Homo sapiens: one gene and its partners. The protein of the gene in region 3 interacts with the protein of the main gene of each other region in a biochemical or structural test. Each region holds a gene or a part of one and is shown on either strand. Other genes may lie near its edges. The genes, in order: GDF2, BMP7 and ACVR2A.

What was found.
Region 1: the proteins of ACVR2A (region 3) and GDF2 form a complex in vitro, tested with the Homo sapiens proteins (2 studies listed by BioGRID).
Region 2: the proteins of ACVR2A (region 3) and BMP7 are reported together in a solved structure, tested with the Homo sapiens proteins (2 studies listed by BioGRID, with this or other methods).

The regions. Positions count from the first base shown.
Region 1 is NC_000010.11:47,325,409-47,328,197, forward strand, and holds the end of GDF2 (growth/differentiation factor 2 preproprotein), read left to right. Parts: coding exon 1-376; 3' UTR 377-2,180; downstream 2,181-2,789. UniProt on the Homo sapiens protein: Potent circulating inhibitor of angiogenesis. Signals through the type I activin receptor ACVRL1 but not other Alks. Signaling through SMAD1 in endothelial cells requires TGF-beta coreceptor endoglin/ENG.
Region 2 is NC_000020.11:57,224,974-57,228,727, forward strand, and holds part of BMP7 (bone morphogenetic protein 7 preproprotein), read right to left. Parts: intron 3,449-3,754; coding exon 3,256-3,448; intron 1-3,255. UniProt on the Homo sapiens protein: Growth factor of the TGF-beta superfamily that plays important role in various biological processes, including embryogenesis, hematopoiesis, neurogenesis and skeletal morphogenesis.
Region 3 is NC_000002.12:147,910,977-147,914,730, forward strand, and holds part of ACVR2A (activin receptor type-2A isoform 1 precursor), read left to right. Parts: intron 1-3,754. UniProt on the Homo sapiens protein: On ligand binding, forms a receptor complex consisting of two type II and two type I transmembrane serine/threonine kinases.

The DNA of each region.
Region 1 (2,789 bases), on a different chromosome or scaffold from region 3:
TGGCCACGTGGCTGCGGGGTCGACTTTAGCCAGGCGGAAAAGGAGCGCCGGGGCTGGCAGCCACTGTCAAAAGACCTCCCTGCGGGTAAACTTCGAGGACATCGGCTGGGACAGCTGGATCATTGCACCCAAGGAGTATGAAGCCTACGAGTGTAAGGGCGGCTGCTTCTTCCCCTTGGCTGACGATGTGACGCCGACGAAACACGCTATCGTGCAGACCCTGGTGCATCTCAAGTTCCCCACAAAGGTGGGCAAGGCCTGCTGTGTGCCCACCAAACTGAGCCCCATCTCCGTCCTCTACAAGGATGACATGGGGGTGCCCACCCTCAAGTACCATTACGAGGGCATGAGCGTGGCAGAGTGTGGGTGCAGGTAGTATCTGCCTGCGGGGCTGGGGAGGCAGGCCAAAGGGGCTCCACATGAGAGGTCCTGCATGCCCCTGGGCACAACAAGGACTGATTCAATCTGCATGCCAGCCTGGAGGAGGAAAGGGAGCCTGCTCTCCCTCCCCACACCCCACCCAAAGCATACACCGCTGAGCTCAACTGCCAGGGAAGGCTAAGGAAATGGGGATTTGAGCACAACAGGAAAGCCTGGGAGGGTTGTTGGGATGCAAGGAGGTGATGAAAAGGAGACAGGGGGAAAAATAATCCATAGTCAGCAGAAAACAACAGCAGTGAGCCAGAGGAGCACAGGCGGGCAGGTCACTGCAGAGACTGATGGAAGTTAGAGAGGTGGAGGAGGCCAGCTCGCTCCAAAACCCTTGGGGAGTAGAGGGAAGGAGCAGGCCGCGTGTCACACCCATCATTGTATGTTATTTCCCACAACCCAGTTGGAGGGGCATGGCTTCCAATTTAGAGACATAAAACACAGGCAGATCAAGTAGCATTGATCAATGGCATGATTCCAACTCAGATTTGTGGGACACCAAAGCCCAGGATCTTCCCAAGTGCCCTGCTGCAGTTTAGCAGGTCCTCTCCAGCTAAAGAGCAGTGAGACATTGGGAGCCCAGGAGTGTTGAGGCCAGGCCAGGCTGAGGCCCATCAGTCACAGGTGTGACTGGGCTGCTTGTCACACACAGGGCGTGGTCTGGCCACTGTTGCCAGTGCTCACTCAGCGGCCACATGCTTTTTAATATGACCCCTGAGGCACTGAAAAATAACCCCAGGCCAACTGCAGGATAGAGAGAGAGGTCAGGACAGCAGCCCTGTGGGCTGCATGATACACTGTGGCTGGAGTTATTGTGACCCCCTGGTGCAGTGCTCCCACGGCCAGTGGTGCACACAGGGCCATTCACTGTCCATAGACTGAAACCATGTGACCATTTGAGAGGGCCGGGCACACTTTCCCCTGAGGGATGGGGCAGCCTGTGGCCAGCACCTCTGCAGTTACTCTGCATAGCCAGCTCACCAGCATGCCATGCCCAGGGTGCCCCCCAGTGACAACCTCATGGGAGACGGGCCTGGATTTGAATTTGTTGGAATTAAATGTGCTCTGGCTTTGGTCTTTGAAACATATCTATTTTTATTCCTTGGTGACATGTCCTTAAGTGACAAGACTCCAGCCTTCCTGGGCGAGGCCTCTCCAGCCTCGGAAGAGCTGCAGTCCTTATCGGCTATCACTGGCTCTGCCTGCATTTGCCGGCTCTCTTGAGTCACGTGCATCCCAGCACCCCGCCTGGGCTCGGACTGTGGGACCAGACTCAGCCTCCCCGAACACAAGGGAAGATAAGGCTTCCATTTGCTCTGTGTTTCACCCTCTCCTCTGTCTCTCCAGGCCACACATGGAACGGGGCGGTATGAGGAAGAGTCTGAAAGTGGTGAAGAGTGCACCTATGGCCCTCTGACCTCCAGCCAGAGCAGGGCCTAGGGGAGGCTTAGAGAGGCCAGGGCCTCTCCCCGTGGTTGAAGCTCCCATTTATTTAAGAAAAAGTGGGGGGTGGGGAAAACGTTATGTTAAATGTTTACATGGAACCAATGAACAACTTTAACACACAAATACAACGAAACATTCTTGTTTAATTACTGGCGTTATAGAAAATATGAATTCCTGCTACATGCCGGGCAGTGTAGTGTTACAATGCTATTCCAAGTTGGGTGTTGAGCATCTTCTTTCAGTCCTGGTGGTGTGCTTCTGTGCCTGCTTGAAAATTTCACTCGGAAATAAAGTCAAATGTCTAATTTGCAGCCCCTCCTGAATGTGAGACCCAATCTGGAGGACCCTATAGACTCATACCCTGCCTACCCCACCCTCCAGACCCCACTGGGTTGGGCCTCCCCTTCCTAAGGAGGCAGAGGGGAGGGGCAGGCAGCCATCTCAGGACTGGGTGGATGCAGGTGGGTGGTGTCTGCACACTGGGGTGAGTGATGTGGTGTGTGCACATTGGGGTGAGTGATGTGTTTGCACACTGGGGTGAGTAATGTGTGTGCACACTGGAGTGAGTGATGCAGTGTGTGCACACTGGGGTAATATGTGTGCACACTGCAGTGAGTGATGTGTGTGCGCACTGGGGTGAGTGATGTGTGTGCACACTGGGGTGAGTGATGTGATGTGCACACTGGTGTGAGTGATGTGTGCACACATTGGGGTGAGTGACGTGATGTGCACACTGGAGTGATGTGTGTGCACACTGGAGTGAGTGATGTGTGTGCACACTGGGGTGAGTGATGTGTGCACACATTGGGGTGAGTAATGTGTGTGCACACTGGAGTGAGTGATGTGTGTGCACACTGGGGTGAGTGGTGTGTGTGCACACTGGTGTGAGTGATGTGTGCACACATTGGGGTGAG
Region 2 (3,754 bases), on a different chromosome or scaffold from region 3:
CTAATCCTCGGCACCCCCGGGGCTTTCCTGGAGCTCAGGCACAGCTCGTCAGATGTCCCAGCCCTGCACAGCTGGGCAGCTGGCGGCACAGAGACAGAGGCAGCCACATGGCGGGGACAGCAGGGCAGGCTCTGGGCTCCCCCGGGCTGAGGTCTGCAGGAGGCCTTCAGCTGGAAGAAGCTGTGCGGGCCCAGGTTGGGGACATGCAACCAGGTTGGGGACATGCAAAGAAAAAGCCTATCTCTGAACAGGCGAGCTGGAGGAAGCGTGGGGGATTTGAAGAGCATTTGCAAGCTCAGGGCTTTGTTCCTACTGGAAGATTGCAGAATTAGGGGAATTGGCTCGGTGGACCTACATGGGAAGGCAGTGCCACAGCCACCACCCAGGGCTCTTGTCTTCCTAAAGAGGTCTTGCTCCACTTCCTGCTGTGATGATGATGATACTAACGCAGGTGACCATTTATTGAGCACTTCCTGTGTGTAAGACACTGTTGTAAGTATGTCACCCCCTTTCATCCACAGCACAACTCTGGGAGGGAGATTCAATTATTATCCCCATTTTACAGAGGGAAAAACTGAGGCTCTGAGAGATGACTCTTTCCCAAGGCCACATGGGTAGCTGGTGGCAGGATTTGAATCCATGCTCTTAATAGCTGGGGAATTACATCATAGGGGCATCTTGGTTCTAGGTTGAAAAACAAAACAACCTGTCCAGAAAAATGAATAAATAATATATTTTTTAAATTTAACCATTTAACTTCTGAAGAATGGAGGCTTTGCTGCAGGAGGCACAGGAAGAACATGTAGAAACCTAAAGAAAGCAGCTCCGTCTTGCCCTCCACTGCTTCTCACCCTATTCCCTTCCTTGCTCAATGCTCCCACCTGCCATGTCCTCTCCTCTGCTGGAACGTGAGCTTCCAGAGGGCAGGGACTCGTGTCTGGTTCGTTCTGGTCGATGCCCTCAGGCATGGCATGCAGCAGGTACCTGTGCTGAGGAGGGACTCAGTCACTCAGCAGCCCAGAAGCCCCCAGGAGCAGGACCCCAGCACTAGAATGGGCACCCCCAGCCCAAGTTGCCTGTTGCCGGCAGCCTGGCAGGGAGGACGCCTGGAACGCCCATCCCTCCTCCAAACACAGTGCTCAGGCCTGCTGCCCAACCCTGCAGCCCTCAGGATCCACCCCATGGATCTCAGGCAAGACAGCAGAGGCACCACAGACCATGATGGGACCAGGTGCCCACAAAGCCAGCAGGAAGGACCAAGAGCTGCCGGAGCTGAGTGGAGAATCCAGATAACAGCCTGGACACAGAGGCTGTGGTTTCATCCTAAGCAAGAAGCTCCCTGGCTGCTGGGAGTAGATGTCGATGTCACCTCCCAGGAGAGCTGCTCAGCAGTGTCTACCAAAGCCACCCATGTGTGGGCCCTCTGACCCCACAATTCTATCTCTAGAACTTTATCTGACTGATAGACATGAACACGTATGTCAGCGAGGGTACTTGCCCTGCGGCACCATCCATCATAGAACAGAGGAGCCAGCGTGCACACGTGAAACACAGCACAACCCAAGCCGTGGAACAGTGAGGTGACTCAGAGGATGAGGGCACCCCGTGTGAACCCCTGGAAAGGGCTGCCAAGGTTCATCATCCAACGATGAAAGCCAGAGGCAGGAGTGAGTGCACTGTGGGGTTCCACAGGTGAAAACAGCAACACAGATTCCTTCGCTGATTTCAGGAGACTCAAGAAACTGGCATCAGGGACCACCTCAGCAGGGGCTGGAAGCCTTCATTTTCACTGTGGTTCCTCTTCTTTCCTTTTGATTTTATACCATGAACATGTCTTGCCTACTCAAAAACTTTTTTTTTTTTTTTTTTTTGAGAAAGAGTCTCACTCTGTCACCCAGGCTGGAGTGCGGTGGCACCATCTCGGCTCACTGCAACCTTCTCCTCCTGGGTTCAAGCAATTCTCCTGCCTCAGCCTCCCAAGTAGCTGGGATTACAGGCGCCCGCCACCATGCCTGGCTAATTTTTCTATTTTTAGTAGAGACGGGGTTTCACCGTGTTGGCCAGGCTGGTCTCAAACTCCTGACCTCAAATGATCCACCTGCCTTGGCCTTCCAAAGTGCTGGGATTACAGGCGTGAGCTACCACACCCGGCCTAAAAACAAATTTTGGAAAGAAATATCTTTCATAAGCATGGGCTCCAGCTTTGCAAACCTGGGCTCACGTCCTAATGTGGCCACATTCTCTCTGGGTAGCCTCATTCTTTGGCTTCAGGTCACTTTAGTTCTCCTCATTTTACAGATAAGCCACCACTTCTGAAGGCTACTGTGAATATGAAACAAGATATCAAGTGCAAAACACTCTGGAAACGCTCAAGAACAGTTTTGTTTTCTTGGTACTTAGATGACCATCCCCACCCCCACCCCCCACCAGCACCAAATAGCAGTGCTTGGCAAACGTAGCTGTGATGGTTCTTCTGTCCCTGTCTATGGTAACAAGTCCCCTTTCTAGCTGAAGATGCTAAGCCTGCACATCACAAGGAGGTGCCCACACCACCTTTCTTCCATCAATTTCCCTGCCCAGTGGGGACGGTAGATGTCTGACAGCCTGCGGGGTCCAGCAACCCAGCCACTGAGTAATAGGACCTTGGTCATTTCTGCCTCGGGACTGTCTGAATAGAATGCACCTGCTAAATGTCCCAGCCCTTTTTCTTAGCCTCCTTACCTCTCACAAGACCTTGAAATTAATGGATCTCGATAAATTAAAGACTTTCAACACAAACGTTTGGTTTCTGACCTAGTGATTCTTGGAAGGCTAAGAGTTCTCTGTTTTTTTTGGTTTGGGTTTTTTTCTTCCCCTAACATTTTATTTTAGATGGCCACCTTAATTGGTTGCCTGACATCGTGCACTGGGTTTCAGAGTGAGAAACGGGAGAGAGGTAGCCCTTCAAAAATGTTTCTTCCCCTTCCCCTTTTCTTCTATGTCCCTTAGCACCCAGCCAGATCTAGACTGCCTATAAAAACCCACAAGGCACCACGCATCCCTGGGCTCCCTGGCCTTCTACTATTCCTGAATTTGTTGTCGGTCATGGTTTTAAGGAAGTGACATACACCATACACCTTCTTTAGAAGGGATAATCTGGTACAGGGCCTGGCACGTGGTTGTGCCAATCTGACCCATCCTCTGGCCCTCACCACCTTCTTCCTCTGCCCCCAGAGGAAACTCAGCACCTCTCCCAGATACCCGTATAGCACCCACCTGCCCAAGTGCTCCTGGAGCACCTGATAAACGCTGATCCGGAACGTCTCATTGTCGAAGCGTTCCCGGATGTAGTCCTTGTAGATCCGGAATTCGGCTGCCGTGACAGCTTCCCCTTCTGGGATCTTGGAAAGATCAAACCGGAACTCTCGATGGTGGTAGCGTGGGTGGAAGAATTCCTTGTCATGTTCCACTGGAAGAGGAAGAGAACACACACCAACACCGACAGCTCATTAGTGTCTGGGTTTCACTCTCTGGCTCTGAGTCCAAGCATCTTGCCTAAGCTAGATGGAGGCATGCCCATTGCCAGTGACCCCAGTGACAACTGCTCCTTCCTCACCAACACACTGTAGACTGGAGGGTCACAGGCTCAGACCCCATGGTCCCCATGGTCATCCTGAACGACAAGAGCATGATTCTGCATCCAACCTGCTGGGAAAAGTAGGGCACTAACCACAGCCATCCAAGAGGTCCTGGCCAGACTCAGGTCCCAGGGGCT
Region 3 (3,754 bases):
ATGATTCTGTCTTCCATGAAAGGGAAGTGAGGCAGTTCAGGAAATAGGAAATTCTAGAGGTTCTTAAGACAACTATCAGAAAGTCTGAGAAACTGATTTCTAGCTATATATAAATTTGTTAGGGCTGCTAGCTCGTTTTTGCTAAAGGCAATACTGCCCTCTAGTGTCGAGAAGGCAATTCCAATTTGTAAATTCCTTGTTTTATAATTTAGACTCTAGAGGCTCTTAGAAAAATAAATAATCATTATTTAAGACTTGATTTAGTTTGTTTGCAGGCATGAAGTCATTGGATCAGTTAACTTGGGATTAAACTGGAGTCAAGAATTTGTTTACCACCTATCTCTCATATCTAAGGGGTTCTTTTTGATATTACTTTCCTCTGTTTGTAAGGAAAGTGTTCCCTATCTTTATTTAAACAATGTAAAACTTTGGATCATTGCCAACTTTTAAAATACTAAACCATTATTCTCTTTCCTTCACTTTTGTAACTGATGTGTCATTTTTCATTTCATTCTGGATATGAATCGTAATTTCTTTTGCCTGTGTTTTTTCTTCACAAGCACGCCTTTCATATAATGATAGAGGTAAGATGCATTGATGTTTGTTTTATGGTTGTGGAACTTTCTGTGGATGCATACTAAACATTTTGTTCTTAGATTTTTGTTGTTGTTACTGCTTTACTGTGCATCCTCTATAATTTATATATTTATGTCATAAAGGGTTCTCCCTCACCCAGCTTTTATAATTAAAATGTGATTGATTTGACTTAGGAATGGCTTTTAGTTTTAAGAGACTGAGAGTATTTATATTTATTTAAGGTAGGATGTAGAAAAAACCGTTTTACTTGATTAGAAGTTAACACCTTAACGGCTCCATTCGCCTCAAAAACCTTGTATTGGTTAATTTTTATATGTCATTAGCTTAAATGTCAGCATGTGTTCATTTTTAACAGGGGTCGATTTTCTAATCCAGCCCATTGTATTTAAATGTGAAATAGATATTTTTAGATAGCTTCATCTTTGGCATCTTTAGCAAATGAACTAGCTACAGGAGTATAACTTTTGATGATATTTTGCTATCTGAGGTTTAAGCGTTTAATTAGATTAAAATTCACCCTTCAAATGGAGAACTCAGAATAAGTAAAATGATCAGAGATGACTTTGTAGCTTCCCACCTCTAATAATTTATTCCACTGTTGGTTATAGTAATGATATTGGGTAGTGGTTTGGGGGCAGGAGATTACTTTTTACCAGGTTATCATTTCAGTATGTGTTCTGAAGCTGATGTCTTCTGATACCATAATTTTTACATATAAATGAGTAAAGAAGAAATGTAATCAGAACTGTGTTTGAATGCATATCTTTTTAGTTTTGCAAAATAGCATGGATGTTGTAAGAGAACTGGAAATTTAGGGAAGTTTTTAGGAATTCTGAAATCCTTCTAGGTGCCTCTCAGCTCCCCATTGGTTTCTCTATGTAGCCAGGTAAAGCCATATTTTGTGTATGACATCAGAAATTGCTTGTCATTTTGAAATTTATGTCTACATTTGTCTTCCCAGGGGCTCATATATTTTAAAGGTATACATTTTTATTTTTAGAATCAAGTATTGATTTTTTTGTGAATAAATTACTATAATGATGCCAATTAATTGAAAATCATTTCTACTATTATAGGATGAGTGAAACTTACAGATGAATTTAAAGTTTCATTCTAGTAATTTTTTATTTAAAAAGGATTAGAGATTTTATAATCTGTCCTACAGTTATCATTTTTGAACCCAATCCTTTGTGTATTAAAGAATATTATTTAAAATTCCATTTTTGAAAAGCTCATGTCATTGCTAAAGGTTTTGAGATTCTACAGGAAGACCTTGTAGACCTTTTTGTCACCCTTTCGAAATTGACCAGTATTCTTTCTAATTGAAGCTTTTACCTTTTAAGTAATTTTGACAACAATATTTGTTCTGGCTGTTACTATACAATATTGAATAAATTATAGTAGGAGGGTGATCTAAGATTATTTCTTTCTGAAATAATGATAGCTTAGAAACTTGTTAAACAGAGCCTTGGGAATGTATGGGAACTTGAAGTATATGCATTTGGAAAACATTTAATGAACTTTTTTTTTTAATGTAGATATTAAAAATTATTTTTTCTAAAATTAATGTTATACTAAAATCATAGTTTGAATTGCTGACATATTAATTGTGGATTAAATAATCTATATCTTACAGACTGAATCATATTCATGTTGTTGATGTCCTTTAGAACAGAGAATGGGTAATGTGTAGATTAACTATAGAGACATTACCAGTGTACATAAAAGCTATTAAAAATCTTAATATTGTAATTTAGCACTGTATTCCCTCTACCTAGTTATTTTTCCTCTTCAGCTTTCAGCCATTTTCTGTATACTTTAGTTTTTAGTTTTTGGCATCCCCTCTGGTTTGAAACCTATCTCTCTACCTTTCTAACATTTTCTATTTAGTTTAAATATGTCTTTATGCAGTTATACAATAACTCTTTGCCCTTGAGGACTGAATGGTTTCCTTTCCTGTAGAAGAGTTGTTTTCAAGCTTTTTTTCTCTTGTCTCCACATTCATATAAGCAGTCTGCTCTGATCAGTAGAATTTCTCGGATAGAGGTGATCACTTGAAGAATGAGGGAGGGAGGGTGTAGTTTTTAATAAAAACTCTCTAGAGGTTCTTGTGTCCCCTCCACTGAGAATCACACTTGAGAGCCCATCCTTCCTATAAGATTTATATCTGACCTCCTTGACCCGTCACTCTGCTAAACAGAAACGTTCTTTCATGTTTTGAATGTGGGAAGGACAAGCAACTTGTAGACAAAAAAAAAAAAAAAAAAAAAAAAAAAAAGTCTGAGTTTGAAATGAGTCACAAGAAGTCTTTTGTTTTATCTTACTGTTTAAACAGGAATTCTAAAGCCATTTTATAAAGATGGTTTCATTTAGAAGAAGAAATTGCATGTTTTTCCTACATAACACCTTGCAATGTTTCTGTTGCTGAGGTTCTTTCTAGTACACAGTAAACTTTTAAAACTCCTGAGTGGCACCAGTGAGCTGAGTGATGCCTAAAGAAAGCACTAACTGTCTTTGAGGCATTAGAAGAAGAGAGAAAAAGAAAGGCAGAGAGGATGCATTGATCTGGGATCACATACCATTTCCAAGTGTCTGAGGTGCCACCCAGTGTCATCATATCAGTTGCTTTTGCCACAGAAATTTTAGTTCCTCCTCAAAATACTCATTATGCAGCCCTCCAAACCCTTCTGTTGCTTTTCTCTGGAAGCTTTCCAAAAGGCTTCCTGCATCTTGCTTTAGTTGCAGATAGGGAACTGAGAGAATGCTTTCAATGGAGGGTTGCATTCTGCTTTGATAGGATTTCCTTGTGATTTGTAGATGCTGTATTCCTATTTATATATTATGTTTGCTCTATTTTTAAAAAACTATAGCAGTGCACGTTTCTTTCATTTACCATATCCTGTTATCTACTATGATGACCACTTCTTTTCTGGATTTTTATTCGTACTTCTTTGCCAGTCAGTCAGTTCCAGAACACAAATGATTTTTTATCTCAGATCAAAGGGATGAATTGTTAATATGTTTAAAATTAGAATGAACCAGTTTGGTTAAAGAAATATTTACTTACATATTTCCTGTATGTGCTTTGTATTTGATATACCTATCTGCAATGTGTTTAAGAATGACTGCCGGTATCTCTGAGATTAATGAAGAAAAA